4 separate regions of the Homo sapiens genome follow, and all the other regions are reported to be linked to region 3. Evidence: microRNA targets listed by miRTarBase, many of them from high-throughput screens and not tested one by one. Region 3 holds a microRNA gene; each other region holds the end of a gene's coding sequence.
What was found. The annotated mature microRNA hsa-miR-2114-3p reads CGAGCCUCAAGCAAGGGACUU and lies in region 3 at 5,180-5,200, shown strand. An mRNA with a match to its seed (bases 2 to 7 or 8) in the 3' UTR can be bound and repressed. Matches are read on the target gene's strand: a 7mer-m8 pairs with bases 2 to 8, a 7mer-A1 pairs with bases 2 to 7 and ends in A, and an 8mer does both.

Region 1 (7,118 bases), not on the chromosome of region 3:
AGAATATTTGTACCTTTACATGTTCCTCTTGATTTTGGAACAAGTCATTCCAAATACCATCAGCTCAAATGACTGGATTTTCTAATGGCTATTCAAAATTTATCTAGGTTAAGAATTGAAAACTGTTATGTAAACCTATTATAAAACTCATTCACTTTTAAAGCAGATAGTTGAGAAAACAACGTAGACACTCCATTTCTCACACCTGATCTGCTCAATTACCCTGATAATTTAAGGCTAAAGAAATTCTTTTGACTTGAATCTAAAGTGCTAATCCCAGTGTTTGCTTCATTCTCATTTCAGAGACATAAACTGTATATCAATATAGGGTCTCTTTTCAAGATGTGAAATGCTTATGCAGCATTTAATGTTTGTAAATGTCATTCTTTTGCATAATACTTAGATCACATATATGATGATCTTTAAAATTCGGTGACTGAAGTTCCTGTATAAAAAGATTTGATTATCTTTTGAACCTTGCAGACCCTTACTTTTGGTGATGTGGTTGCTGTTCGCCACTATGAGAAGGCATAAAAATGTTCCTGGTCGGGGCTTGGAAGAGCTCTTCAGTTTTTCTGTTTCCTCAAGTCTCAGTGCTATCCTATTACAACATGGCTGATCATTAATTAGAAGGTTATCCTTGGTGTGGAGGTGGAAAATGGTGATTTAAAAACTTGTTACTCCAAGCAACTTGCCCAATTTTAATCTGAAAATTTATCATGTTTTATAATTTGAATTAAAGTTTTGTCCCCCCCCCCCTTTTTTTTATAAACAAGTGAATACATTTTATAATTTCTTTTGGAATGTAAATCAAATTTGAATAAAAATCTTACACGTGAAATTTTGTTGTTGTTTCTAATATCATTAATCTGGCTAAGAATTCTATATTAGACAATTTTAAGTAAAATAGTCACTCTTATAGCATAAAGTAAGGCTGAAAAAATTAGCACTTTGTTTAAAATACTAATTTAAAAAATAAGCAAAAGCCTTAGAAAATACAGAAATGCCACAGTTTTGGTTGAGCCTTCCATGAAGAATCTGTGATGGTAAAATTCATTTGGCCAGGACCCAGAGAAGCCTTGTATAGTGGGTTGGGCTACGGAAGTGGTGTCGTTTTTTCCTTTTTTTGAGACAAAGTTTCAGTCTTGTTGCCCAGGCTGGAGTGCAGTCATGCGAACTCTGTCTCCCGGGTTCAAGCAATTCTCCTGCCTCAGCCTCCTGAGTAGCTGGGATTACAGGTGCCCACCACCATGCCTGGCTAATTTTTGTATTTTTTAGAGATGGGGTTTCACCGTGTTGACCAGGCTGGTCTTGAACTTCTGACTTCAGGTGATCCACCCGCCTCGGCCTCCCAAAGTGCTGGGATTACAGGCATGAGCCACTGCGCCCGGTGGAAGTAGTGTCTTTAGAAGAAACGGTTTGAAGAAACAAAATGATGTATATCAAAATGTCTTATTAAAAGGTAAATATAATCAAAATATCATGTAATCAAAATTTCTTATTGAAAGGCAATAGAGAAAGGGAGTGAATTTTATCCTGGATTATAAAAAATGTTTCTCCAGACAACTAAACTGAGTTGGATAAAGTCAATGAGAGTGCAAATGGAGTGCTGTGCATAAAGACACTCAAAATTTCGGGGTGGTGGAGCGGGGCGGGGAGAAGAAAGGGAAGGTGATTGAGTTGACCAAACCAAATTAAATACTTGTTTGTATCTGGCTGGGGTCTGAATTTGTGAAATACAAACAAACAAATATTTTACATATTTCATCATTTACAAAATGCTTTTTATACATTTTCTCAACCATACAATGTTTAGCAAGAAGGCAGGTATTATTTATTTTTACTTTACCAATAAGGAAATTGAAGGTTAGATTTGCATGTCCAAGTTCTCATGTGTAGTAAATAATATTGAGAGCTGGAAATCTTGCAATATTTCTCTTTATTTCCTCTCCAAAATTAATATTTCAGCTAACTTTTCTTCTGAAACAAAAACACAAGATTTTATTCTCCCCGATCATTCCTTTTCTTTGTTAGCCTCTTGGGAGGCTAGGGAGGTAAATATATTTCAGCACTTATATGTAATACTGTATTCATTTTTAATCAGCCCTGTGTTTTAGTAAGTTTTTATAAATTAATTCAAAGTTCAATTAACTGGCCAGGCACAGCAGCTCACACCTGTAATCCCAGCACCAGCACTTTGGGAAGCTGAGGCAGGTGGATCACGTGAGGCCAAGAGTTCAAGACCAGCCTGACCAACATGGCAAAACCCTGTCTCTACTAAAAATACAAAAATTAGCCAGGTGTGATGGTGCATTTCTGTAATCCCGGCTACTCAGGAGGCTGAGTTAGAAGAATTGCTTGAGCCGGGAGGTGGAGGTTAAAGTGAGGCAAGACTGTGTCATTGCACTACAGCCTGGGTGACAGAGAGAGACTCTGTCTCAAAAGAAAAAAAAATGTTCAATTAACTTACAGCTATAAGTATGAGAAAATTTTCTTTTTTTTTTTTTTCCTAAGAGATGGGGTCTTGCTTAGCTGCCCAATCTAGTCTCAAACTCCTGTGCTCAAGCAATCCTCCTACTTCAGCCTCCTGAATAGCTGGGACTACTGGCACATACCACTGCACTCAGTTTACCCGTCTTTAAAAGCATGAAACACAACATGAACAGGTTGTTGGCTCCAACTGTTCTGACAGCCACCATCTCTGCTTCTGGTGGAGGGCTGTTTAACAACTGGATTTCAGCCTACACTCTACCAGAAGCCCAGATTCTGGCCTCTCTCTTATTAAAGATACAAAGCCAAAGATAGAGATTTATCTTTAGCTCATTAAAATGAAGCCAAATAACACTGGCACCAGTTTCCATAACAACTGTCTCCCAGAGTGAAGAATGAAAAGGTTTTTGGGTGGCCTAAATGGGAAACAAAGATGCAATGGTCTGAAAGATCAAGGGTTGCAGTGGTAGAACAAATGATTTTAAGAGGGAAGATAATTAACATGTTTGCTTCCTAAGTTTTTCTGGGTAGTCGCAAATCATTTTTCTTCAAACCAAATTCTATTTCACACTGTCAATCTGTCAATGCACTAACTTTTCTGGTTTGCCGTCTTTGTTTTGTTTCTTAACATAGTTAAGAAACATAATTAAAGGAAAGGAAAAATGACCAAGACCAAAGGCAATTTGACCAACAGGCCCTGGAAGAACATTTCTGAAATGATACGAAGGTCTCAATGATACAAACTAAGCTAAGGCTGTTTTGTGAAGCTTCTGCTCTTCTTTCATGTGATTTCCCTCACCCAGATATACACACTCACGATGACATATTTGTACACCTGGCACATGGAGACCTACAAATATATGCCCATGGTTGAGATATGCCTGTAGAGATGTTGGGGCACTGTAGTTTTTTGCTTCTTAGTGAGTATTAAGAAAAAAAAAAAGAAAGTGGAGTGAGTAGAAAGAAGGATGGTGTTTCTACCCACTAATTTTAATATACTGTACTTTTTAGGATTTCAAACATTTCTTAAGTTTCAAAATGTGTATGCCTTGTTTTATGCTTACTGAAAAACTATTTTGCAACCAGTTACTTCCAGTAAAGTATATTGAAATTGGAAAAAAAAAAAAAAGGAGTGAAAAGAGCTATTTTTATAATTTATCCTTTTCCTAGCTTTAAATGTTTGGACTAAAAACTCCTAAGTTGTTTTGTTAATCCTTACAGTCGTTTTCTCTCACCAGCTCACCAGTTTTTTCTGGCTCCATTTTCTCCCATATTCTAGAGGTTGTGAACTGAGAAACTCCAGGGACCATCTTGTCCTCCACTGGAATGCACTTTGGTTCTTGCAAGCTTTTGAATCATCCAAAAGCTGAAGCAGGACTTCGGCTGCCCTGGCAGGACTTGAAACTGTAACACAAAAGTACCTGAGACAGGTCTCAATCAATTTAGGAAGTTTATTTTGCCAAGGTTAAGGATGGGCCAGTGACACAGCCTCAGGAGGTCTTGACATGTGCCCAAGGTGGTCAGGATACAGCTTGCTTTTATACATTTTAGGGAGACATGATACAGCAATCAATACATGTAAGATTTTTACATTGGTTCGATCTAGACGGGCAGGACAACTTGAAGCTGGGCGGGGGGTGGGTGTTTCCAGATCACAGGAAGATTTAAACATGTCCTGATTGGCAATTGGTTGATTGAAAAAGTTATTATCAATAGAAAGGATGTCTGGGTTATGATAAGGGGTTGTTAGACCCAGATTTTGTCACACAGACGAAGCCTCCACGTAGCAGGCTTTAGAGAAAACAGATCTTAAATGTTTCTTATCAGACTTATGGTCTATGTTGATGTTAATTACGCATGTCCAACCCCCCCATCCCCTTTTTCATGGCCTGAACCAGTCTTTCAGGTTAAATTTTAGAGTGCCCTGACTGGGGAAAGAGTCCATACAGATGGTCGTCCATTCAGATGGTTGTGGGGGGCCTTCAAATTTTATTTTTGGTTTACAAAACAGAAAATGGAAGCACCTTGCTTCCCACTTCAAAGCCCGTTTCATGACACACACTCCCATTAAATTACATGGGATACAAAACAAAGCTTTCTATGCTGGGAAAGAAATACACTCTACAACATCTTTTTTGAGGTTAGTAATTATGGAAAGCATTTTCTTCTGCAAAGGAATTCCACGCCCTATAAATTTAAATTATTAGCTTGTCATCTCCAAGAGATCAGCATCCTCATAAACGGTGAGAGAAGGAACACAGAATACAGGATCCAGCACAGTTTCGGGATTCTGGCTTCTTTGCCAGACTTATCTTTGCTTACTTCTTTGTATAGACTTACTTCTTTGCCAGACTTATCTTTGCTTACTTCTTTGTATAGACTTACTTCTTTGCCAGAAGTATATTCAAAAAAGTTCCGTGGAAGCATCAAATCAACCACCTCTACTTATGATTTCCATGCATCTCTGGAATGCATAAAGCATGATTTCAGAACATGTTCTAATTCTAAGACCCTTCTCTTCCCGGCAGTTTAAAAAAAACAAAAAACAAAACGTCGTATCTTTGAGCATTGGTTTTCAAACATCACAATCACTTTAACATGACCTGAAATGCTTGTGAAAACACAAACTGCTGGGCTCCAGCAGGTTTCTGACTCAACAGGTCTAGGGTGGTGCCTGGGAATTTGCATTTCTAACTAGAGTTCCCAGGTGGTGCTAATGTTCCCAGTTCAGAGACTTCAATTCGAGATCCACTGCAGTATCCATAACTTTTGCTGATTTCCTTCAAATCATGATACTTCAGGGCTCTCTGCATCACCTCTACTGAGGAGCCCTACCCATTAAAGCTGGGGTAGGTTGGCCCAAGAATGGAACCGGGATCGTTGAGATTTCAGCACCCCAGCATTTTTTAGTGACTGAAATAATGAAAATTCTGATCAGGCTCCTGCTTGCTTGCACATTTTAACCACTCGCTTTTTGCCCAATATTCTCCTTGTTTCCACAATATAATTATAAACTGCTGAGGTACTGCTTCCTCGTCAAGAACAAAGAGGTTAACTTCAGGGTCACAAAAATGTTTGCAGAAGGGATGAATACCTCCAAGGGCTTTGCAACCAGCTGCGGATGCCTGGACGTCTAATTGCTCAAAGGTGTTATCTGAGACTGAAGAAACAGACTTTTCCCCTGGATTCTTTGAAAATCCCCCTCTCTTATTCTCTAGCAGAATAAAAACTCCCTGCTTTTTCCTTTTTACACACGGATTTGAGAGATCTTGTTCTCCCTCCTTCTGGCTTTTACTAAATTGAATGTCTTTCTCTATCCCCAAGCACCAGTATGTCAGTGTTTGACATCAACTGCACCACTGATACACGAGTCGGAATTTGAGCTTCTACAAGTACATTCCTTCCTAGGCCAAACACTGACGCTAAGAAATACGAGAACAGATCATCGCTAAACAGCAGCTGAAGGTCAGGCGAACTGACTCGCTGCGGAATCTGCCTTTGCACGTGATCAGTCGGACGTCTACACCCGCAGCCGTCTTCTGTCTCCGCCTCACCCTCAGGCCTGACGGTCCGAGTGGAGCTGCGGGACAGCCCGAACCTCCAGGTCAGCCCCGCGGCCCTCCATGGCGCTGGTGCGCGCACTCGTCTGCTGCCTGCTGACTGCCTGGCACTGCCGCTCCGGCCTCGGGCTGCCCGTGGCGCCCGCAGGCGGCAGGAATCCTCCTCCGGCGATAGGTGAGTTGTCCGCGACCCTTCTCTTCCCAGCCGGCAAAGAGCGCGGAGCGGCGGCGCCTGCGCACAGCAGGAGAAAGTGCGTGGGGGCAGCTGCCCCCGGCAGAGGCTCGGGCTAGCGGGGCCCCTGACGCGTCCGGCGTTGACCACGGCTGGTGGGCGCGGGGAGGGCGACCAAGGGACTACAGCGTTAGGGCGTCCAGCCGGGAGGCCGGGGCTGGGCGGGGGAAATGCCCTCGCCGGTGGGGGCGCTCCAAGGGCGCGTCGGCCGGATTTCGCCAGCCTGGCTTTTGTTTACATCCTGCATCTCAGTTGTTTTGTTCCTTGGGGAAGGAAGGAAAAGCTGCGGGACTCAAGGGAAGAGGAAGCTGGGAGTCCGATGTCCAGCACAGCAAGAGGCCCCTAATCGGTCCTGAATGGAGGGGGACTGCAGTTTCCCCACCAGCTCAGGGAAGTAAATTTCAGCGTGACTCACACTATCTTCTGTCTTGCTCGACCGAGATCAGTGGCTTTTTCTGCCACTCACCCAGCCAGAGCGCGAAAGCACCCTCGGGTAGACTCACCCCTTAGTCTACCGTGGAACTCACGGGGACTTCATTTCACCTGGATGTCCACTAGGTTTCCTGCGGGCGGGACCCATTTTATTCACTCCCAGCACTTAACACAGTGCCCGTTACAGTAGTGATTCTCTTAAGTGTGCCCTGGACCGGTGGCAGCAGCCGCCGCACTTAAAATTGTTAGCATTGCAAATTTCCAGCCCATCCCAGACCTACTGAATCTGAAACGCCGGCGTTGGGCTTCCACAGTATGCTGTTTAACCCACCCTCCGCATGATTCCTTTCGGCTAAGTTTGAGACTCACTGGTCCAGAATAGATACATTTTGGTGGGAGATTGT
Region 2 (7,118 bases), not on the chromosome of region 3:
TGATGCTGTTTTGTGGATTTTTGTGGTAGTGATGGTTGTCAGTGCTGCCAGTTTCCCAAAACGTAATCAAGCCTCTGGTCACATGGCTGTCGATGTAGGCATTCTGGAGTGGTGTTCAGCCAAGTGACCGGGCAAAATTGGGCTGTGAAATTGTACTTCCAGGCTTGGATGTAATTTTTGCTCTAGAGAGAAGCAAGTGGTGGGAAGGAGGTAGCATGACGTGTGGTGTGCGGGTTTCCTTGCTGCCGTCACCTCTCCGCTCATACAGGAATGAAGCCTTAGCCAGGAGGCCAGGCTCAGCCCTGTGCCACTCACCGAAGCCACTTTCTACAGGCCAGCAGGGGCTTGTTGCAGGCTGTGGGTTTTGGTGTGGTTTGTCAGAGGCTAATTCTGCAGAGTTTCCAAAACCAGAAGACATCGTATGCTTGGGATGGGGGCCGTGCCACCCGTGGGAATGCTGCCCGCTCTGCAGACTGCTGCTAGAGCCAGCAACTCCACTAAGGTGGATTTTCATCAGGGGCCTGCAGGGCCCTCCCTTTTCCCATTGTTCCTGCGCTGCAAATTGCAGGCCCCAGCAATCGTGACTGACGTTTGCTCCTTGACTCCAAGAAACTGAGACCAAAGAAGCTGCTGTTCTTAGCAAGATGCGCACTGCATTCCACAGGTGGGAGGAGTCGGAGAGGCAGGGGCTTGCTTTGCAGCCCCACAGACAACAGTTGCACAGTGCCTCAAGCCCCAGAGTGGCTCACCCTGTCCAGACCTTTGAGGATATCAAAGGACAAAGTGCCCAAGTCTTTCCTACCTTGGGGGAACCTGGAACTTGGAAAGGCTCCCTGTCCTAGTCTTGATCTGTTCTGGGCCAGGTCCCAGCTTGAGCTGCCTCTGAGATTTGGGCTGTGCGGATCTCTGGAGTGAGCTCTGTTTCGGTTGACCCAGGTCATGGAATGGAAACGGTGAGGCCCCAGTGGCTGTTCTGGAAGAAACAGATCTCCTGGCAAAGGCCCCAGCATCTCCCTCACTGAAACCAGGTGGCCGGCTCCTCGGACTCTGCTTTATGTTGCGGTGAGAACTCTGCCCAGGTGTGCAGGGTTTGGCTTGTGGGCTGCTTGCTGCTCATCTGATTTTTGTCCCAGTAGTCCCTGCGTTCTTCATTCAACCCCTTCTGGGACTTCAGCTCAGAGAGCACCATCCCGGGGGTCAGGGCCTCCCCACAGGAGCCCTGCAGTGTGGTAGCGCCATGGCTGTCTCAAACCAAGCAAAGGAAGGACCCTGAGGCCTTCACGCTAACCGTCCTCGAGCAACTGCTGTTGGAAGGCCTCCCTGGGCCTGGCCCCCACCCTCTGCCACCCAGTCCTCCCAGCTGCCATGTTTCAAAGACGACCTTTACCTCCTGCCTTTGGATTGACTCTGCATTTGACCACGGACTCCAGTCTGTGTGTAGGGAGAGAGCTGAGTAGGAGGCCTCCACTCCGGATCGAGGCCTGTATAGGGCTCGTTTCCCCACACATGCCTATTTCTGAAGAGGCTTCTGTCTTATTTGAAGGCCAGCCCACACCCAGCTACTTTAACACCAGGTTTATGGAAAATGTCAGGCCTTCCCCACAACTCCTGTCTAACTGCTGTCGCCCCCCTACTTGCTGGCTCTCAGAAGCCTAGGGGAGTCCCTGTGGTCCTGAATTCTTTCCCCAAAGACGACCAGCATTTAACCAACCTAAGGGCCCAAAGGCCTTGGACAACTGCATGGAGCTGCACTCTAGGAGAAGGAGGGGAACCAGATGTTAGATCAGGGGAGGGAGCAGGAGTGTCCCTCCCGTCAGTGCCTACCCACCTGTGAGGCAGCCTTCTGATGGCCTGGCCCACCTTCCCCAGAACCAGGGGAGGCCTGAGGCTTCAGTTTTACTCTGCTGCAAAATGAAGGCGGGCCTGCAAGCCGACTACACCTACGGAGGCTGTTGAGGACAATTTCATTCCATTAAATTAAAAAATACTGACTGGCTGGCAGGCAGGTGCCATGTCTGGGAACAGGGACGGGGGAGCTTCACCTTTTTGTCTTGGCTTTTCTTTGGGCTGTGGGGGGGCATCCATTTCCAGGGTCGGGGAGGAAATACCAAATGCATTGTTGTTCTGCTCAATACATCTCACTTGTTTCTAATAAAGAAAGCAGCTGAACAAAACCTTCTGTCCTGGTATTCCTGGTCAGCAGGTGGCAGTGGAAGAAATGGAGTGCTGGAGCCTAGGCTGGAGCCAGGACGACAGGGCTTGGACACAAAGTCCCTCAAGCCCACAGCACCAGGCCAGCTTCCAAAGGCCTTCCTTTAAGGCTGCCCTTCTTCCAGGGCAAACTTGGTGTTGTCAGACCCTTCCCACCCGCCAGAGACGAGCTGCTATTGACCCAGGTTCACTCCAAGTTAGAGCAGCAACTGGGCTCTCAGCCAGCACCTGAGCACCTCAGCACAGGAGCCGGCCCAGGCTTCCCTAGCTGGGCACAGAGCAGCCCCCTTGGTCCAGGTCAGCAGTGGCTCCTCTGGTGGAGGTGCAGGCCCCGTGCCTTCCCACTGTGCCCAGGTGCCACATCTCTCCTCCTGCACCACTGGCCGGGTGGTTCTTTGAGTCACTAGGGGTGCATTTTAACATGGCAAGTTGCTGGGCCCCAGTAGCTGTGTTTAAGACTTCCCATTCCCCCTCTTCTCATCCTCTGGAACTTACCCATTCCCTGACCCCCTGATCCTTTCAGGTCCATGACTGGTGCCTCCAAGCCCCTTTCCAGGGAAACTGAGAGGACACAGGACCTGCCTGACCCCTCTAAAGCCCCCCAACCCTCCTGTCCCAAACCAAGTCACTCAGGCTCCTATGGCCCATGCCTTTTTTCCTGCCCTTAGCTTTGGGCTGAGAGAACATAGCCCTATGTGTTGTTTCTACCCATGGGCCTCTGGGATAAAAAGCTGTGATTTCAGGCTGGGCATGGTGGCTCACGCCTGTAATCCCAGCACTTTGGGAGGGCGAGGCGGGTGGATCACGAGGTCAGGAGATCGAGACCATCCTGGCTAACACTATGAAACCCTGTCTCTACTAAAAACACAAAAAAATTAGCCGGGCATGGTGGTGGGCGCCTGTAGTCCCAGCTACTTGGGAAGCTGAGGCAGGAGAATGGTGTGAACCCGGGAGGCGGAGCTTGCAGTGAGCCAAGGTCGTGCCACTGCACTCTAGCCTAGGCGACAGAGCGAGACTCCATCTCAAAAAAACAAACAAAAAAAAAACCCTGTGATTTCTCCCTTGCTTCTGCTTCCCAGTTCACTTCCTTAAAGACTCTTGCCCTTTTGGCTGGGTGCAGTGGCTCACGCCTGTAATCCCAGCACTTTGGGAGGTCAAGGCGGGTGGATCACCTGAGGTCAGGAGTTCGAGACCAGCCTGGCCAACATGGTGAAACCCCGTCTCTACTAAAAATACAAAAATTAGCTGGGTATGGTGGCGGGCGCCTGTAATCCCAGCTACTCCGGAGGCTGAGGCAAGAGAATCGCTTGAACCCGGGAGGCAGAGGTTGCAGTGAGCCGAGATCACGCCATCGCACTCCATCCTGGGGGACGAGCAAGACTTTGTCTCAAAAGAAAAAAAAAAAAGACTCTTGCCCTTTCAAGGCAGCCTTCTCAGTATTGGGCCCTCATCCTAGCCTTCACCCCTTCCTCTTGGTACCAGATACGAAACCAGAGAAGCCAAGCAGGATGGGCACTCAGCCCTGGGTCTGGTGCTCACCTGACCCAGACCCCCCAGCCAGCCCCTGGCCAGACCTGGCTCTGCAGGGGCTGGGCAATGCTAATGGCTCTTCATTTGCTAAAACTGGACTTAGCCTCACTGTGCCTCCCATCCTGAGGCTGCAGTTTGGCAGCCTGACCCTCTGACAGCCCTGAGTGCCAGATGCCCGGGCTGCCTGGCCCGGCCCGCCTGGCTCGGCCCATTCCTTCTGGGCCCTTTTGATTCTGATTATCCTCTTTCAGACACACAAATTAACCAGAGCCAAACGCCACTCCCAGCATGAAGGAGCGGGGGACACTGCCACTTTCTGCATTAGTTCTTGGAGTTGCTAGAAGGTGGAGTCTGCCCCAGCCCTGTGTTTTGGTTTCTGTGGGGCTTGGGGCCAGTTCAAGGCCTATCCCAGCCCAGTTCCAGGCCACCCTCTGGGGACTAATGTCAAGTTCTGCCCTTGTCCAGTGCCGGCACTGTTGGCTGGCAGAACCTAAAACACCAGGCCTCCACATTTCACCCTGCTGGCAGGGGCGGGTGCAGGATTTTCTCCAGATTCTGTCGCCTAGTGTCCAGTGCGCTCTCCTGGCATTTCTATAGAGGCGGCCCAAGCAGCGTTTCCAGCCTTTGTGTAAAAGGCTGGCTGGCTGGAGGAAGGGAAGCCCGTGTCCTTGGGATTTGCCCTACTGAGCAGACAGGGGCCTTGAGCCCAGCCAAGCCTGGAGAGTGGCAGTCTGAGGGTCCCTCAGACTCCTGTCTCCTCCTCATTCAAGGCCCCTCTGTGTATGTGTGAGTGTGTGTGTGTGTGTGTGTGTGTGTGTGTTGTGGGGAGGCGCTGACCTGCTGAATTGGCATCCTCAGACAGTCTTGTGATACTCGCAGCAGCTTTAAGCCAGGAGCAGGGATCGGGCTATTTAGAGCTGTGGCATCTCCTGCTGCCACCCCCTGGCTGTCTTAGCCAAGTCCATGCCCTGTTGAGGGGAGAGGCCCAAGAAACTCATCCAGCCCTGTCCCTCCTCATGGGCCTGTGGGGGTGGCAGCATAGAGGTGCTCAGGGAGTGGCGGTGGTGAAATCAACGTGCTTCTTTATTTTTTAAACTAGATAGGCTCATTCTACTGTCTTCTCCAGGGCTCTTCTATGAAACAGTTACAAACCTACGGCCAGGCCAGGCAGTGGCTCACACCTGTAATCCCAGCACTTTGGAATGCTGGGGCAGGAGGATCACTTGAGGTCAGGAGCTCGAGACCAGCCTGGGCAACATAGGGAGACCCCCGCCCCCCCCGCCATCTCTACATAAAATTTAAACATTAGCCAGGTTTGGTGGCCTGTGCCTGTAGTCCCAGCTACTCAGGAGGCTGAGATGGGAGGATCGCTTGAGCCTGGGAGTTCAAAGCTGCAGTGAGCCATGATTGCAACATTGCACTCCAGCCTGGGCGACGGAGCGAGACCCTGTCTCAAAAAATAAAAACCAAAACCTACTGCCAGTTTCCCCAGGGCTTCATGCCTCAGCGCTCCCTTCTTGCTTTGAGAAGGGAAGGGGAGCTCAGGTTCCGGAGCTGGAGGGAGGAGTCCAGGAAGGCCTGGGGTAAAGGAGGGCTTAGGGGCTAAGCTCGGGGTCGGGGCCAAGTGGAGTGACTGCGCTCCTCTGGGGGAAGGAGGCTGGGATGGCCCACGGGAGGACAGAGGGGAACTGAGGGCCCACAAGTGTCCTGCTCCCCAAGTCTCCTGGCAGCAACAGGCTTGCTCCTCATAAGTCACAATGAGGGGTGGGCTGAGGACAAGAGGAGCTGGGGCCATCTCAGGGCCCCAGGGTTGGAGCTCACTGAAGTCACATGAACACCTTTCTGTTCTTCAGGAGGGGCCCAGGCAGCCCTCAGCACCCAGGTGAGACCAGCGCCTGGTGAATGGGCTGAGTGGGCCAAGTGGGTGGGCTGGGGGGCTGGTACTCCCACCACCTGACTCCAGAGGAGGAGAGGGCTCTGCAGGGGATGTGGACTGGCACTCGCAGAACCCCAAGGCGAGTGAGGTGGGCCCTCAGGAGCGCTGGATGCGGATTTGGATGAAGAGCGTGGCTGGTGACAGTGAGGCCCCGTCCTTGGAAAGCAGGTGTATGTGGCGGTACCCTGTAGGGAGGACAGCCAGGCCTCAGGTCCTCTGTGCACCCTGGGGGTCTGGCCCAGCCCGGGCCTGCTTCAGGGCAGGAAATTCGAGGCACAAAGGTGAACAGGGTCTGCAGGACCTGGACCCACATCCCTCTCCATCCCCACCAGCCTCCACCAACCTTGCTTTAGGCTGCTAAGAGGCAGTGTAAACTGGCCCACAAAGTCATTGGGGGAGGTGGCGTCATAATCTTCCACCACAAACCGGACCAGTGCCAGCTCCGGAGCCCGCAGCTGGAACTGCAGGGTCTGCCCCCAGCGGGGGTTGAAGCCTAGGGCACAGGGATGGCAGTCAGAGCCCAGGGGCCCCAGGACCCACCCTGCACCACCCTTCGCTCTCTGCAGTCTCCCCCAACCCCACTTCCGCCAGTGGCTGCCCACCATTGTTGAGCACGTAGTCAGTCTCCTGCCGGGCACAGTCTGCGGGCACCCCATGGATCTCAATGCGCACCAGGGGGTCCACAATGGAGTGTGGCTTCTCGGCATTCAGCTTGGGCAGCTGCTGTGCAGTCAGCACCTGTGGGTGAGGGAGGGAGTGGCTGGGGCCCACGCCCACCTTGGCCATCCCCTCATGGGCCTCAAGCTCACACCACCCTCACTTCCAAATGTCCCCAGCCTCCCTTGCCTTCCTCCACCTCACAAAGAGCCTTTCTAGAACCAGTCTGACCCCACACTGGGGCCCGTTCCAGCCTGCTGACCTGGATGCTGAGAGTGGTTCTGGGAGGTCCTGGGTACTCGGGGTCAAAGGTCGAGTCAGGTTGCCGCAGGCAGGCAGGTTTTAGGACGTAGCCACACTGCCCATTGACTAGGAAGCGCCCGGCATTGAGGTCCATCTCGTAGCCTGGCGTCTGGAAGTTCAAGGCCACTGTGGACACAGCAGGGTCAGAGCAGGGGCTCTTAGCGGCCCTGTTCTCACTACTCAGTTTCAGGGGACTGCATTCCTCTCTACAAAGGGCCTGGGGTCCCACTGTCTGCTTAGTGCTGCTCTGCTCCCACCATGACTTTAGGGGAGGGGGTCATGGACCCAGCCCCCACTGTCACCTGTACTTCTGCCCTGGGATCCCTCAAGACTGGGGTGGGAGGTACTAAAAAAGCCCCCACCCTCAGGGCCAGGCTTGGGTCAGAGCCAGGGGTCTGAGGAAGCCTGGGGTTTCCATCCTTACCCCAAGGAGACGATACAGCCCTCCTTTGGTGGGGCTCAGCGTCCCCCAGAGCCCACC
Region 3 (7,118 bases):
CCACTGTCAAGCATTATATTCCAAGAGCACAGTGAAGGGTTAGGGACTAGAGAATTCTTACTTGCAATAAAAAGTCATTTTCCCTGCAAGGATTTCAATAAGAGAGATTTTTGGGAAAAAATAATAGCTATGGGTGTATTTGGCCATTGCAAAAGATAATCAGCTGCTCCAAATGCATAGAACAGCCTTAAGTACCACAGGACCTGCCTTCAACAGCAAATACAGCCACAGTCAAGTTTGTGTGCCCTCGAGTTTAATATGGTGTGATTGATAAACTGCACATAATTTAATAGTTTTTCAGGAAGAAAGAGAGAATCAGCAACATGGCATTGAAGGTACCCGTTGACAGTGACGTGCATCACAGCATTAACAGGTGAGGAAAGCATGCGGCTCTGAAAACCCTCTCCTTGCAGCCCAGCTCACGACCCACAAAGGCCTGCGGTGAGGCCAGTCACTCTGCTAGCACAGCCAGTTTGTCTGTCAGTCACAGGCAACAGTCTTCCTCCTGCCCCCTCCCTGCCCCCATAGCCCCAGTTCCCAACTCTGATCATGTTATAACCAAGAGCAAAATGTGATGCTTCTCTGTTCTGGCAGGAGAAATGCTTGTGTGTGCAAATGGGAGACAAAGGAAAGGGACCACCACATCCATGGAGTGCACCGCGTGAGAGAAATGCTCAGGAAGGGAATTGACCAGATTGGCTGTGGAGAGAAAAGAGAAGGAACATGGGAGGCAGAGGTATACCCAGGCTTCTGGCAGGTTACGGAGACCTGTACCCAGGAAAGAAACAACAGTCGGCAGGGGAGCTCCAGGTCTGGATCCGCCTTGAGCAGGGATCATTGTGTGTGCCTGAAGCTCCGTTTTCCATGGCCAGCTCTATTATGAGGGCTCAGGGGAGCTGGGTTAGGCTAGCCATGTCCCATTCCTGAAAGGCCAGCTCTGGGTCAGAAATGTGACCTCTCTCTCCTAAAGCCCCAGAGACTGAGTGCTCCTTGTGCATCTCCCTAAATCCTGTTGTTTGTCCAGGCTCTAGCTGGGTCCCCCTTAGCAGCCCGCTCAGCAAGGCAGGCCTGGAGTCCCACCACTGGGGCTTCTCTCTCAGTTGGTTCCACCTCTCCTAGCTGAGCAACCAGGCTTTCACTGCTGAATGTCTGAGCCAGCTCCATCGTACAACAGGAGTGAGGGAAGTACCTGCTTCACAAGGTTGTCATAGCCATCAAATGGGATCACACTCTAAAGGCAGGTAGGGCAGTGCCTGCATGGCACTTGGTGGATGGTCAATAAGACTTTATCCTTCTTCCTTCATCTTCCTCTTCCTCCTTCCTGTTTCCCCTCCTCTCCTTGGTATTGTTGCTATTTTGTATTGGTTTCTGTGCCTACTGTAACAAATTACCATAAACTTCGTGGCTTAAAACAGTGACAACTTATTCACTGATGCAGAAATGTATTTATTCATTTATTCTCCAACAGTTCTGGAGGCCAGAAATCAGAAATCAAGGTGTCAGCAGTTCCAAGCTCCCTGCGAAGGCTCTAGGGGATAATCCTTCCTTGCTTCTTCCAGCTTCTGGTGGATCCAGGTGTTCCTTTGGCTTGTGGCCGTATCACTCCAACCTCTGGCTCCATCTTCACCCTTACCTACTTCCCTGTGTATCTTGAATCTCCTGCCACTCTCTTATAATGACACGTCATTGGATTTAGTGCCTATTTGGATAATCTGGGATGGTATCTCAAGATCCTTAATTACATCTGCAAAGACCTTTTGCCAAATAAGGTCATATTCACAGGTGCCAGGTAGACATATCTTTGTGGGGCCACCATTCAATATACTACAGTATGAATATTAGGTTTTCTTGTCAACCCCAGATTCTCAGGCCCAGCCACCTGCATTTTCCCTGAGCTGAGCCTCTTCAGAACACTCATGGAGCTACGTGCCTATGGCCACAGTGGGAAGCAAGACCACAGCTTGTATCAGGTCTCCAGAACTTGTGGCACAGGGCCTTGGCCATCAGGTGACCCAAGCCTTTTACTGGCCTAGCAGGGGAAACTAAGCACCGCCCCCTGTTCCCACGCAGGAGACAGTAAGTCTCATGCTCTTTCCTGCTTGCTTTCAGCAGGTATCTAGAGGGCATCTCCCATAGGTCCAGCCCAGCCTGACTGCTGGGACACAGTGTTATTAATTAATTAATAACCAAAACCTCCTAGGCATCTCCCTGGCAGCCCCAAGGCCATCTTCCTGCCCCTGCCCTCAGGGCTCCACAGGCTTTGCTAAGGGCATGCAAACAGGCTCTCCCATTGCCGAGTGGACTGGGGCCACAGTGGGCCCTAAAGCACAGAGGGTGGGAAGAGCTTATCCTAGCCTTGGAGCTAAAGTCCTGGATTCAAATCCTGAGGACCATGTCTGTCACCTTAGACCATGCCCTCAAGGTAAAATAGCAGCTGTGAGCCCTGATGAGGTTGTGAAGCCCATACAGGGAGGGGAGTGCAAGCATTTTACAACCTGCAAAGGGCCATGCAGGAGACAGTCTTAAGAGATGCCAGGCCACTCTTCCCACCTGCATAGCCTAGGGGCTGGGATTGACCTTTCTCCTGCATCAGACAGGACAAACAAATGCCCCCCATGCTGGGAAAAGCCAGGACTCTGAGAGAAAGGCAGACCTTGAGGGCGGGGATGGGAGGATGCCCGTGCAAAGCTTAGCCCCCCTCCTCACACTTTTCTAAGAACGCAGTGATGGAACAGAACAAGAGAAAGACCATGTCTTTCACCAAAGGGGGGAGGGGACAACCCAGTGACCAATTTCAGTGATTAGCTGCAAGAAGAGGGTCCTTTATTCCAGGCGTGTGTATGCCTTTTAATTTCCTCTTGTGGGCTCCTGAGGGGGCCCAGTAACCGTGCAATTGGTATTCCTCTCCAGCCTTGGAGGATGCGGGCACTCTCTCGGAGATGGCTCCAGGTGGCACAGAGTGCCACCTGCACTCCCAGCTTCCCGATTAACTACTCTGCAGCAGACCTCCACAGGGCGATGAAGGGGAGGTGATAAGCTGGCCCAGCTCTGCCCTGGAGCCCAGGTGGGTCTTCTCCCGCCCGGAGGCAGCAGCGGCAGCATTAGGGAGGTGCGAGTTGACCCTACCTCCTACCTGCTTTGTGCTAAACCAAAACAAAAACCGGTGTCAAAGGGGCTTGGCCCCCTTCAGCAATTGAAGGCATAGAAGTTACACACCGGGCCAATTAGGGAGTGGAAATTTGCATTACAAGAAGACCCTTTGCTTCACAAAAGTAGTTCTCATAAGATTGCAATAGATGGCACCCAGGGGGGTTAAAGATTCAATTTTCAAAACCGAGTTTTGCCCACAACTCTTTCGCAGCACGTTCTGTTGTGGAAAACCAGTCTCCAGACTGACTTTTGACCAGCCTTCCAGCCCCAAGATTTGTTGTTTACCAAAGGATACATGCCATCCTTATACTATCTCATACTCAACCCCCTTCTTTGCTATGCCCGGGGCAATTGCTCCAAAACAGATATGGCTCCTCCCAGGCTGGCACCTGGCTCCCGGAGGTAGTCACAGTGGACAAGTATCTAGGCCTGGGGTGGAGAGTACGAGCTAGACCTGAGTCCCAGTCCTGCTGAGCCATCTCAAGTTGCAGGGCCTGTCCCCTCTTTCAGGCCTGAGTGTCCACATTTATAGAACAAGGGAAGGTTGATAGAAGAATCTCCCAAAGTGTTTTTCATTCTAGGAGTTCATTCCTAGGCATTGCTGGGTGGCCCTGGGGATACTCTTGACCTATGAAGTAAGATAGGGACATTGCCTTAGATAACGCCAATAATAATACACAGGGGAAAATCCAAATGCCTGCGTGCAAGTACTTTAGCCCTTGTACCATTTACAGATGCTGAAGGTGCAGCGGTGGGGATGGCCTGTGTCCCTACAGAAAGCACATCTTACAAGTCACACGCCTCACCATCTAAGTGCTCAGCTTTCTGAAACCTGCTCATTCAGAACATATGAACCTCATGCTGTGGTATTCCAGGTCTCAGCTTGGCAAGCTCAATGATGTTTTCATTCCAATCAGTGCTGAATACAAACAGACCCTTATCCCTAAATTGTGAAATTTAGAGAAAAGTAGAGTCTCAAGGTGCAAAATTTGAACCTCACAAAATTTAACTAAACCGAAGTTTGGGATATAGTAAGAGCTCAAGGAAATGGCTTCTAATTGCTCATTGGGAATAGATTTTTGAGATTAAAACAAATTTTTCAAACCTGTCCAGACTCAGAGGCTTGGGAGTGAACAGTTGTCACTTAACTTTATGGCAGTGGTGGCTGGAAGCTCGCCCACCCTGATTCTTTGTTCTCCCTCCCATAATTGCTCAAACTGAGAGGTCTGTAGGCACCTTAAGGATTCAAAGTGATTTGTGAAAGTTGTAAAGTCCAAGCCTCAACTAGAGAGTTGTTCTTGGAGGTAGGAAGTTTGAGGGACTTAAAATGAACTGGGGGGAAAAAGGCAACAGAGGAAGAGTGAGAACAGAGAGAGAGAAAGGCTCAGAGGAAGGAAGATAGGGGAGGGGGGGAGAGAAGGAGAGAGAGAACGTGAACATTTCCTGGTGATTTTAATTTTCACATCACAAAACACCGCACGTCTGTCAACCGTTATATTTCCTGTGCAGCCTTCTGTGACCACATGGAGTACCTCAGGGAGGGAAGAAAATAGAATTCATTCCTTTCTACCCCCAGCCTGATCTGCCCACAGCTGTTTGGGCACAAAGGAAGGAGGGTAGAGCTCTGGAAAATTGCCAAGAGCGCCTCCTCTCTCCAAGGGGAATGACCAATTTTCACCGCCACTGGAAGGGTGTGAGCTGTCCCAAACTGCCCTCTGGGATTATGCTTACTCGGTTCCACAGGAACATTTAGAGAGACAGAGGTTGCCTTGGGTTATCAGGGCCACAGGCTTCCTGGGTCTGCTTTTGGCACCTAGGATTCCATGAAGAGGGACTGACAGAACCTGAGAGCTGAAAAGCACCTCAAGAAGTCATCGGTCCAGTCTTGCCTCTAAGGACTCTCCATCTCAATCAGCAGGACCCTCACCCAGTCAGCAATGGATCAAACGTCCCAGCTTCTGGGGCCAAAGACAGGCCTCTGCCTCCATGCTCCTAGTCCCTTCCTTGAAGCGGTCGGATAATCACATGACGAGCCTCAAGCAAGGGACTTCAAGCTGGTGGCTTCCAGCAGCTAGCTTCCTGCTTCCGAACCATCATTGCCTCCTATTGAAGTCCTCCCATCCTCCACTCCCACATCTATCCAGGCCCTGGGAAACTTTGCCAAGAAGCAGATGATGGCGTCTGCCTTTGCCTGGGTGATGAGATGACTGGCTTCTGTCCCAGTTCTGCCACTCACCAGATGGATCAGTTTCTCATTGCTGTTATAACAAATTACCACCAACATAGTGGCTTAAAACAATGCAAATTTACTATTATACTTTTGGAGGTCAGAGGTCCAAAACAAATCAGTTTCACTGGCCTAAAATCAAGGTGTCAACAGGGCTGGATGCTTTTGGAGGCTCTGAGGGGAGAATCCATTACTTTGCCTTTTTCAGGTTGGCCACCTGTATTCCTTGGCTCATCACCCCCTCCTCCATCTTCAAAGCACATCGTTTCAATCTCTTTCTTAAGGTATCTTGCGGAGGAGGTCCCAGAGGCACCAAAGGGGTGACAAGCACAGATTGCTTTAACTGCTACTCAGAGAATGACTCTGCGCCAAGCCCTGTGCTGAAGGCTTTACACTCACAATCCTTGATATACACATGGAGCTCTTGTCATCACATCCCTTTTTCTTCTGTCTGTGCCAAATCTCCTTCTGCCTTCCTCTTATAAGGACACTTGTGATTGCATTCACAGCCTTCCCAGATAATCTAGGACAACCTTCTCACTTCAAGATCCTTAACTTAATTACATACACAAAGTCCCTTTTGCCATATAAAGTCATATTCACAGGTTCCAGGGGTTAGGATGTGGACATCTTTGTGGGCCATTATTTAGCCTACCATACCAGTAATAGGTCTTTGGCAAGTAAAGTCACCTCACCTCTCTGAACCTTACTTTCCTCATTTGTTCAGAGGGGAGAAGACTCCTGCCCTGCTGACTTCCTGGGCGCCCTAGGAGGTTCCAGTAAGAGAGTGAATGTGATGACATTGTATGCTGTTGAGTGAACACCAGAATAAGTGCTGAGCCTGGTTCTTGTTGCCCTTCTTATGAAGCTGTGGTCCCCTCAGTTCAGTCACCCAGTGCTATCTTCCTCTCTGGAGCCTTTCCTCTGTGGCCTTTTCCAGGCATGTCTTGATGAATGTACTCCAAGTTAAATGTGTCACTAAGCCAACTGGCTCCTCCTACCCTCTCCCAATGATTGAGCGTATAGAGTGGCTATGCTGACTTTGGATCCCAGGCACTGGCAAGTGAACACCTTAGTTGGTTAAAATATCCCTTCCCACTCTGCTGTGTTATGGTTTCAGTGAGACCCATGTGTATATGAAGAAGATTGTGAGTGTAGAGCCCTCAGCACAGGGCTTGGCACAGAGTTGTTGTTCTCTGAGTGGCAGTTAAAAATGTCTGTGCTTGTTGCCCCTTTTGGTGCCTCTGGGACCATCCTTTACCCCCTCCTCTGCAAGATACCTTAAGACCACAGCTAGCAGTCACAGCAGCAAGTGCAAGCACCTTTTGACATTTATGCCATCCTGGCCCTCTGCCAGTTGCTATCCATATCACTTTGGTTGGCCAAGCCCCATTGTCAGCCTCAGCTGGCCAGCATTCTTGGAGACAGGTCACAGTTTGTTCAACAGCTGATAAGAGGTGTGTAAGGGGCATCAAAGGCTCTGAATGGAGAGGTGGAAAAAGCCCCTGGGTGCATGGCCCTGGATGACTCTTGGGGTTTAGAAGAGACCACGGAGATGACCAATGACCAACAAGCTTTCAAAGGGAAATGCTTGCCTCTACCAAACTCAGGGGAAGTCATATCTTCTATCACCCCGGCGGGGGGCTTCAGTTAAGCTTGTGAGAAGCTGAGAGCAGAAAGACCTTTTCTGAACCTGATGTTCCCACCCCTCATCATGCCACTGTGGAGACAGGATCTACAG
Region 4 (7,118 bases), not on the chromosome of region 3:
GCGCCCAGCCACATTACTTCATTCTTCAACCTTGAAAGTCACTTGATTTATTTTCCTTATTTATTGCTACAGTTTAAATAGGGGCTTCATTGGCTCCAGTTGCTGCGTTTCCTAATACTAAACAATCTGTTGGTTTTAGGATACCTTAACTTCATTTATTTATTTATGAATGAATGAATGAGATGGAGTCTCGCTCTAGCCCAGGCTGGAGTGCAATGGCACGATCTTGGCTCACTACAATCTCCACCTCCCGGGTTCAGGAGATTCTCCCTGTCTCAGCCTCCTGAGTAGCTGGGATTACAGGTGCCCGCCACCATGCCCAACTGATTTTTGTATTTTTAGTAGAGACGGGGTTTCACCATGTTGGCCAGGCTGTTCTGCAACTCCTGACCTCAGGTGATCTGCCCTCCTCGGCCTCCCAACGTGCTGGGATTACAGGCATGAGCCACTGCACCCAGCCTTATTTATTTATTTTTTAAGAGACAGATTTCACCATGTTGGTCAGGCTGGTCTTGAACTCCTGGCCTCAAGTGATCTGCCCACCTCGGCCTCCCAAAGTGCTGGGATTACATTTGTGAGCCACCACACCTGGCCAAGAATACCTTGTTAAATTTTTTAACCTGATAGTGTATTCAGGGTTTATGGCTCATTTAGTTTGAGAGTGTTAAGAGACTGGAGTTTTAATCCAATAGGTGTTTCTTTTGGTTCTCAGATATACATACAAGCTGTGATTGTTTAGATGTTTCCATCTTTTTATATATGCATATACATATTATTATTGTTGTTTTTTATTTTTAGGAACTGAAAGAAAATGGTGAATTGCTGCCTATACTGAGAGGAGAAAATTAATAAATCTTAAACTTGGTGCCCAACTATTGTAAGAAATATTTAATTACATTGGGAGCAGTTCATGATTTAGTCCTCAGAAATGGACTAGGAATAGAAAATTCCTGCTTTCTCAGTTACATGTTTTGTGTATTTCACAATGTCGTGCTAAATAAATGTATGTTACATTTTTTTCCCACCAAAAATAGAATGCAATAAACATCTTCAAATTATTAACAATAATTGTATGAAAAAAGTGTATCTTTACAGCAGTATTAAACATACAGCTACTATAATTAACCCACCTTAAATCTCTTTTTCTTAGTACATGAGTATCTTCTAGCAGTTAAGAAAGGCAGTCTTCAGAAAATGGAGAACTGTGGCGGAATGCAGTACACAACAGTATTTAGGACAACTCCTTTGCCAACACAATGGCTCCCCTCGCTGGTGAAAGATCTCTTTACAGCTTAGGAAAAACAACGGAAATTAGTTTCTGATGTCATTGCTGAGCTCGGCACTGGTTACATTGCAGAGGCAGTGTAGGATGTCTGCAGGTTTAGAGACTCATTTCACAAGGCACCAGTAGTGAATTATCAAGAAACATTTAAGAGGAAAATGATTTCTCATTGAATATGGTACAACAAGCACTTTTTTCATAAGGTCTAGAAGAATGGGTAGTCATGACAAAGAATGGAAAAGTATTGTCATTTGTTGTAAGCATCACTACTTTTTTTTTTTTTTCAGACGGGGTCTGGCTCTGTCACCCAGGCTGGAGTGCAGTGGCACGATTATGGCTCATTGCAGCCTCGACTTCTCGGGGCCAAGCGATCCTCCTGCCTCAGCCTTCTGAGTAGCTGGGACCACAGGCGTGCACCACCATGCCCACCTAATTTTTTATTTCTTGTAGAGATGAGGTCTCCTGCCTCAGCCTCCCAAAGTGCTGGAATTTACAGGTAGGACCACCACACTTGGTCCACTTACTTATAATAAACATTGATTTGGTCGTTCAGGTTCCTTTGGTCCTCCTATTGAGAACAGTTTGAAGTCCATGAAAATTTTAACAATATTTTTGATCCTGAATCTAACATATTTGAAAAATAGTTGCTCCACTAGGCTTCCACAGTGCAGGCTTCAAATGGGATGGCTAAATTCACCTCATGGTTCTTAGTTTTTTTTGTACTTGTGGCACATTCTCTTCATATATTACCCCACCCTGTTTGTTTGGGCAGTTAAGATGCTGGTACTGTCTGGTGGCGATAAGGAAAGGGAAACAGAAGTCAGTAATTCAGACAAGAATAAACAGGATGAAATGCATCTATTCCTAGGTAAGATTAGCCCACCACCTCCACACTGCTGCTGTCTCTTCAGCTCAGGCTGTTTTTCTCTGTTTTGATTGTGTAAAGAGTAGAGTGCTGATTTGTGTGTTACAGAGGGTGGTCTGTACAAGTCATAAAGCTCGACATGGCCTTGCTTCCTGCTAGGTGTTAGGACACCCATGATGGTGGAGTCTCTTGGCATTCTGTGTAATTAGATAAGGCTGTTTATAGCATTGGTCCATGAGAACTTCCTTGTTTCTATTTAAAATGAAAATCATTGTATAAGTAAAACTTCTTAAATGTAGATAGAAATAGAATTTTTACTGAAATTTTATGAAGCCATTGGCCGCAGGGATGTGTGTCATGGAGGAGGGCTCCATACTTTTTTGGTATACTTATCTCAAACTTAATTCATTTGCATACTGCTTTTTCTCTAAGTGCCAACTGTCCTAGTATATTTTCTAAGTCAACTTTTACTTTCACTTTATCCTAAGCAAGAATATCTTTGGCATCACAGACTCAGTAAGCCTGTTTTTTTCTAATGCACATACAAATAAATAAAATGCACAACTTTTAACATAAATGGCTGCCTCCAATTTGGGAAATACTGTTCTGGCCAGAGGCCGTTGCTCTGATAATGTCATGTGGTTAGTGCATTTTAGGAAGACCTCCTTTCCCTTTGGTTGACTCCTGCAGGACATAAGATATCAGTGACGTTATCCTTTGTTGAGCCATCCTGGTTTGAGTCAGGATGAGTGTTGAGAGTTTTTGGGGAGTTGCCCCTGTGTCCTATATTATTTTATCCTCTTAAAGTCTGATGGTCTTTGGCTCCACTGACTCCAGGTAAGTTGGGGTGACAGTGCAGCATATTTCTATTTTCTAGTTGTTTCTGGCCAGACATGGGGAAGGTCAAGACATCTTGTTCATGCAAACGGATTGATGGCCATTCCTAATCTGATTTTATTAGTGTATTTTAGGAAGTAAAGTAAGATTCTTGAGCCCAGCTGAACTTCCCCTATTGAATTTTCTAACAAAAAGAGAGTTTGCGTATGGGTTTATAATTGAGCCTGCTCTTGTAGAAATGTTTTATCAGAATTGAAATCCTCTCTGATCCCCAAATTCTAGAGACAAAGTTGTTTTCTGAATTTGAGAAATCTGTTCAGTTCACAAGGAAAGGTGACAATGTGTCATTTGGATGTTGTCCCACACGTGAGGCCTCGTTGGGTGCTTGTGGTGGGAGGGACCCTCCAGGCAGGCTTTGTATGGAGGGTTTTCATGTCTGGACACATTTCTGTTCCGAGAAGCACTGCTGCGTTTTTGGGAGCGTGGACCCTGGCCAGAGCCTGTGGCCAGCTCTGCCTGCCCTCCCTTTCTTGGCCTGCTCTTTTGAGTATGTAGTGGGGCTTTGTGTGGCATCCTGCCAGGTTAAAGCTGCATGGTGCTTAGGATAGAGCTGGTGCTGTGGGGAGGCTCTTGATGATGGGGGCTGCCATCTATTTGCCTGTTAACTCTTAGAAACCAAACCTCAAATGTCAGAATTTCCTTTCTAGAAGAGGCTGGTTGAATAGGAACCAGAAAGGCCCTCATACAGGCAGGGCTGTTCACTCCTCTTGACTTGCGTGTTTGTGCCTTCCTTGTAGGAAGGCTTCTTAGGGAATTGTTATCTGTTTAGGGGAAATAAGCCTGCAGGAATGAACTTTTTTTTAAAATAAAAACTCTTGATCAAAAATGGAAAGAAAAAAACCAGTGAAACAGGCTAGGTAGTTTGTGGAATTCTCCTTTGCAGGTGAGGGGAGAAAGCAGCTATCTCAAGGGCACAGCTACAGATTGGGAGCTGGGGCTTCCATCCAGGGTCTGGGACACCCAAACCTTAGGCTTGCCCCTCCCGGGAGGCCTCCCCCTCAGAGCTATGTGGGATGCAGTTGCCTTTTTACCTGTGATGAGAAACTGGTGAATTGCCAGGATTCTGGCTCTGGCTTCAGTCTGCCCCTTTCCGGGGATTAGAGGGCATTAACCCTACTTCCTACAGCCAAGCAGCTCTTCCTCATGACTCTACTTTCTAACTCCGGGGGTTGACTGATTGATTTGAAGACCGCCTTGTTGATGAATGTGTTGAAACTTGCTATCATAATGTAAATGCTCCTTAATAAAATAACAGGACCTGGTGGGTTCAGTTGCCTTGCCCACGTGTGACTTACATGTTTTTGCCTTTTTTTGTTGAACACTGAGCCTTGCAGAACCATCAGGAAGTCCACCTTGGTCCCACTGGATTGATCATTAAGAAGGAAGGAAAAAAGTTATTTGCCATTTCCGTTCTTTACAAAAATGTCTTAAGTCTGCTGAGGAGTAGACTAAAAAATAGCATGTTTTTATAATTAGAAAGCCTCATTTTAATAACTTAAAAATGTTTAATCTCTGAAACAACTGTAATACATTTTAAGCGCTTGGTAATCATTATCTGCCTTATTGGAAAGAATTATACAAATAAGACCTATCTTGACAGTCAAAAGTTACAAGCTTAAGATTGCAATATGAAACATGATTTCTGGTTTAGTTTTTAAAGTAAAATCAGCTTTCTTTTCCTTTGTTTTTTGAGACAGGGTCTCCTCTGTCACCCAGGCTGGAGTGCAGTGGTGCAGTCATGGCTCACGGCATCCTTGACCTCCCAGGCTCAAGATCCTCCCCCGTCAGCCTCCTCAGTAGCTGAGATGACAGGCATGTGCCACCATGCCCGGCTGTGTTTTGATTTTTTTTTTTTGTAGAGATGAAGTCTCACTATGTTGCCCAGGCTGGTCTCAATCTCCTGGGCTCAAGTGATCCTCCCACCTCAGCCTCCCAAAGTGTTGGGATTACAGGCCCTAGCCACCATGCCTGACCTAAGATCAGTTTTCTTAAATTTGACAGTTGCTACTTTTCAAAATTCAAACCTTTCTAAATAAAAGTAAGTTGATTATTTGCAGATGAATTCTTGTTTTATACACATTTCAGATGTTGAGTTTGAGGACCTAGACCCTTCCCTTTTTGTCTAGTCACATTTCCTCACGGCCGTCCACTGATCGTTGAATCAGCGTAAATATGGACAGTTTCTCTTGAGTCTTTGGGTCTTCATTTCTGAAGGCTCCTGTGTCACGTAAGACTTAAATAAATCTTACGCTTTTCTCTTGTTAATCTCTTTTGTTATAGGAGTGTCGGCTGTGCCCCTTGTGATGGGTGAGGAAAGGTATCCACCTTTCTGAATCAGACACAAGCTGCAGTAGCTTCCTGATGCCTCATTCACCAGGATGGGTAACTTTAAAGACAAGTTTTATAACTGGCATCCCATCTGGTTTCAGAGTCTTGGGGGCTTTTTTCATACAGCTTTGTCTGATATTTAGAGACATTCAGATTCAGAAGCCATGAGTTCAGTTAGCTCATGGGCCGGGCACGTGCACTGACTCACTGGCTGCAGCAGAACACGTTGAGGGAGTCTTGGTGCACTTAGGTCACTGTAAGGTTCTAGGGCTGGGAGCTGGGATTTGAACCAGGATCTGTCAGCGCAGCCCCAGTGCTGTGCTTGAAGCCTCGTGCCACACTGGCTTTGAGGTAGCACGCTGCAAGTTAGTGAGTGGAGTTGCCCAAGTCTGGGGCTTCTGAAATGACCTGGTATTTTTATGTTCCTGTTAGAAATGGTGTGGCTTTCACAAATTAAGTGCCAGGCTGGGCACAATGGCTCGTGCTTGTAATCCCAGCACTTTGGGAGGCGGAGGCAGGCGGGTTGCTTGAGCTCCGGAGCTTGAGACCAGCCTGAGCAACATGGCGAAACCTCATATCTACAAAAAATAAAAAATTAACTGGTCATGGTGGTGTGCACCTGTAGTCCCAGCTACTTGGGGAGCTGAGATGGGAGGATTGCTTGAGCCCAGGAGGTCAAGGCTGCAGTGATCGTGCCATTGCACCCCAGCTTGGGTGACAAAATAAGAGCCTGTCTCAGAAAAAAAAAAAAAAACAAAAAAACCTAATTGCCAGGACCCGCAAATTCTGACTGAAAAAGACCTTCTTGTTCTCCCCACGGTCATTCATCTAAATGGTTGTCAGTGGTACAGTGTTCATCTTTTCTCAAAAAGTCAAGTTTTATTTGAGGAAGTTACAGATTTCCATATGAACTCCTAGAGAGAGAGCCTGCCCTTGTTCAGGGTTGCCCGGGGGATGCCTGCCATGTGGTAAGGTAAGGGTTTCTCTGCCCCTCATCTCCCAGCCTGCTGTCCCCAGGAGCGAGTTCCTTAACCCCTAGCCGTGTCGTTGAGCCCAAGCTTGTAACCTGGATATGGGAGCTGTCTATTTAGGAAGAAGGCATGTGTGGTAATTTCTAAAAGAATTAAAATAGATTTTTATGCTCTTGTATTATGTTTTGTGCTTAAAAGGAAGAGCCCCGATATAATGGAGAAAAGCCAGAAGGAGCTTGGATGCCCTCAGAGAGCCCTGTCACCTGTCTGTAGGGGCAGAAAGGAGGATGCCTTTCCTCACCCATCACAAGGGGCACAGCCAACACCTAGAATAGATTACCAAGGAAAAGTATAAAATGTATGTAAAGACTTAGGTGACACAGGAGCCTTCAGAAATAAAAACCCAAGAGAAACTGCATGTTCACACTCAGATTCAACGAAGAGTGGGTGGCTGTGCAGAAATGTGATTGGACAGAAGGGAAGGATCTAATCGTAGACTGGATGGGGAAGCCTTGCCCCGTGTGTAGCTTTCTTCCTTCCAGGTACAGGGCAGGGCCCTTCTGGAATGAAGGTCTGGGATCCATTTTCAGATAAAGTAGTGTTGAGGATGTCTTTGTGGCCGGCTCCTGTAGTGGACCTCAGATCCGGGTGCTCGCCAGTTACAGAGTCCAGTTGACAAGAGCAAGGTCTGGTAGAAAGAAAGTGACTATTAACCAGAACTAGTCATGGGGATATGGCTGGATTCCCACCCAAAGTAACTACTTTGAATTCTGGA

Region 1: miRTarBase lists FABP7 as a target of hsa-miR-2114-3p. The part of its 3' UTR that is shown has no 7-base or 8-base seed match.
Region 2: miRTarBase lists PLCD3 as a target of hsa-miR-2114-3p. Seed matches in the 3' UTR shown: 7mer-A1 at 5,114-5,120.
Region 4: the mRNA of GLRX3 is a reported target of hsa-miR-2114-3p. The part of its 3' UTR that is shown has no 7-base or 8-base seed match.

The regions. Positions count from the first base shown.
Region 1 is chr6:122,783,234-122,790,351 of GRCh38, forward strand. It overlaps FABP7 (fatty acid binding protein 7), which reads left to right. Exons shown (of 4, transcript NM_001446.5): 4 at 484-841. The coding sequence ends at 534. It overlaps SMPDL3A (sphingomyelin phosphodiesterase acid like 3A), which reads left to right and starts at 6,025. Exons shown (of 8, transcript NM_006714.5): 1 at 6,025-6,225. The coding sequence starts at 6,114. RefSeq lists enhancers at 5,835-6,336, 6,337-6,836 and a silencer at 6,051-6,345.
Region 2 is chr17:45,106,843-45,113,960 of GRCh38, forward strand. It overlaps PLCD3 (phospholipase C delta 3), which reads right to left. Exons shown (of 15, transcript NM_133373.5): 12 at 6,597-6,763; 13 at 6,280-6,415; 14 at 6,021-6,170; 15 at 2,117-5,862. The coding sequence ends at 5,774. NMT1 (N-myristoyltransferase 1) reads left to right here. Exons shown (of 12, transcript NM_021079.5): 12 at 1-2,174. Among named protein-coding and RNA genes, the nearest start is that of MIR6784, 4.0 kb to the right of the region's middle. RefSeq lists enhancers at 17-518, 5,088-5,953, 5,954-6,818.
Region 3 is chrX:150,222,873-150,229,990 of GRCh38, forward strand. It overlaps MIR2114 (microRNA 2114), which reads left to right and starts at 5,132; the gene lies at 5,132-5,211. RefSeq lists enhancers at 2,394-2,981, 2,982-3,567.
Region 4 is chr10:130,178,544-130,185,661 of GRCh38, forward strand. GLRX3 (glutaredoxin 3) reads left to right here. Exons shown (of 11, transcript NM_006541.5): 11 at 799-1,129. The coding sequence ends at 849. It overlaps LOC124902561, which reads left to right and starts at 1,570. Exons shown (of 2, transcript XM_047426136.1): 1 at 1,570-1,778; 2 at 5,325-7,118.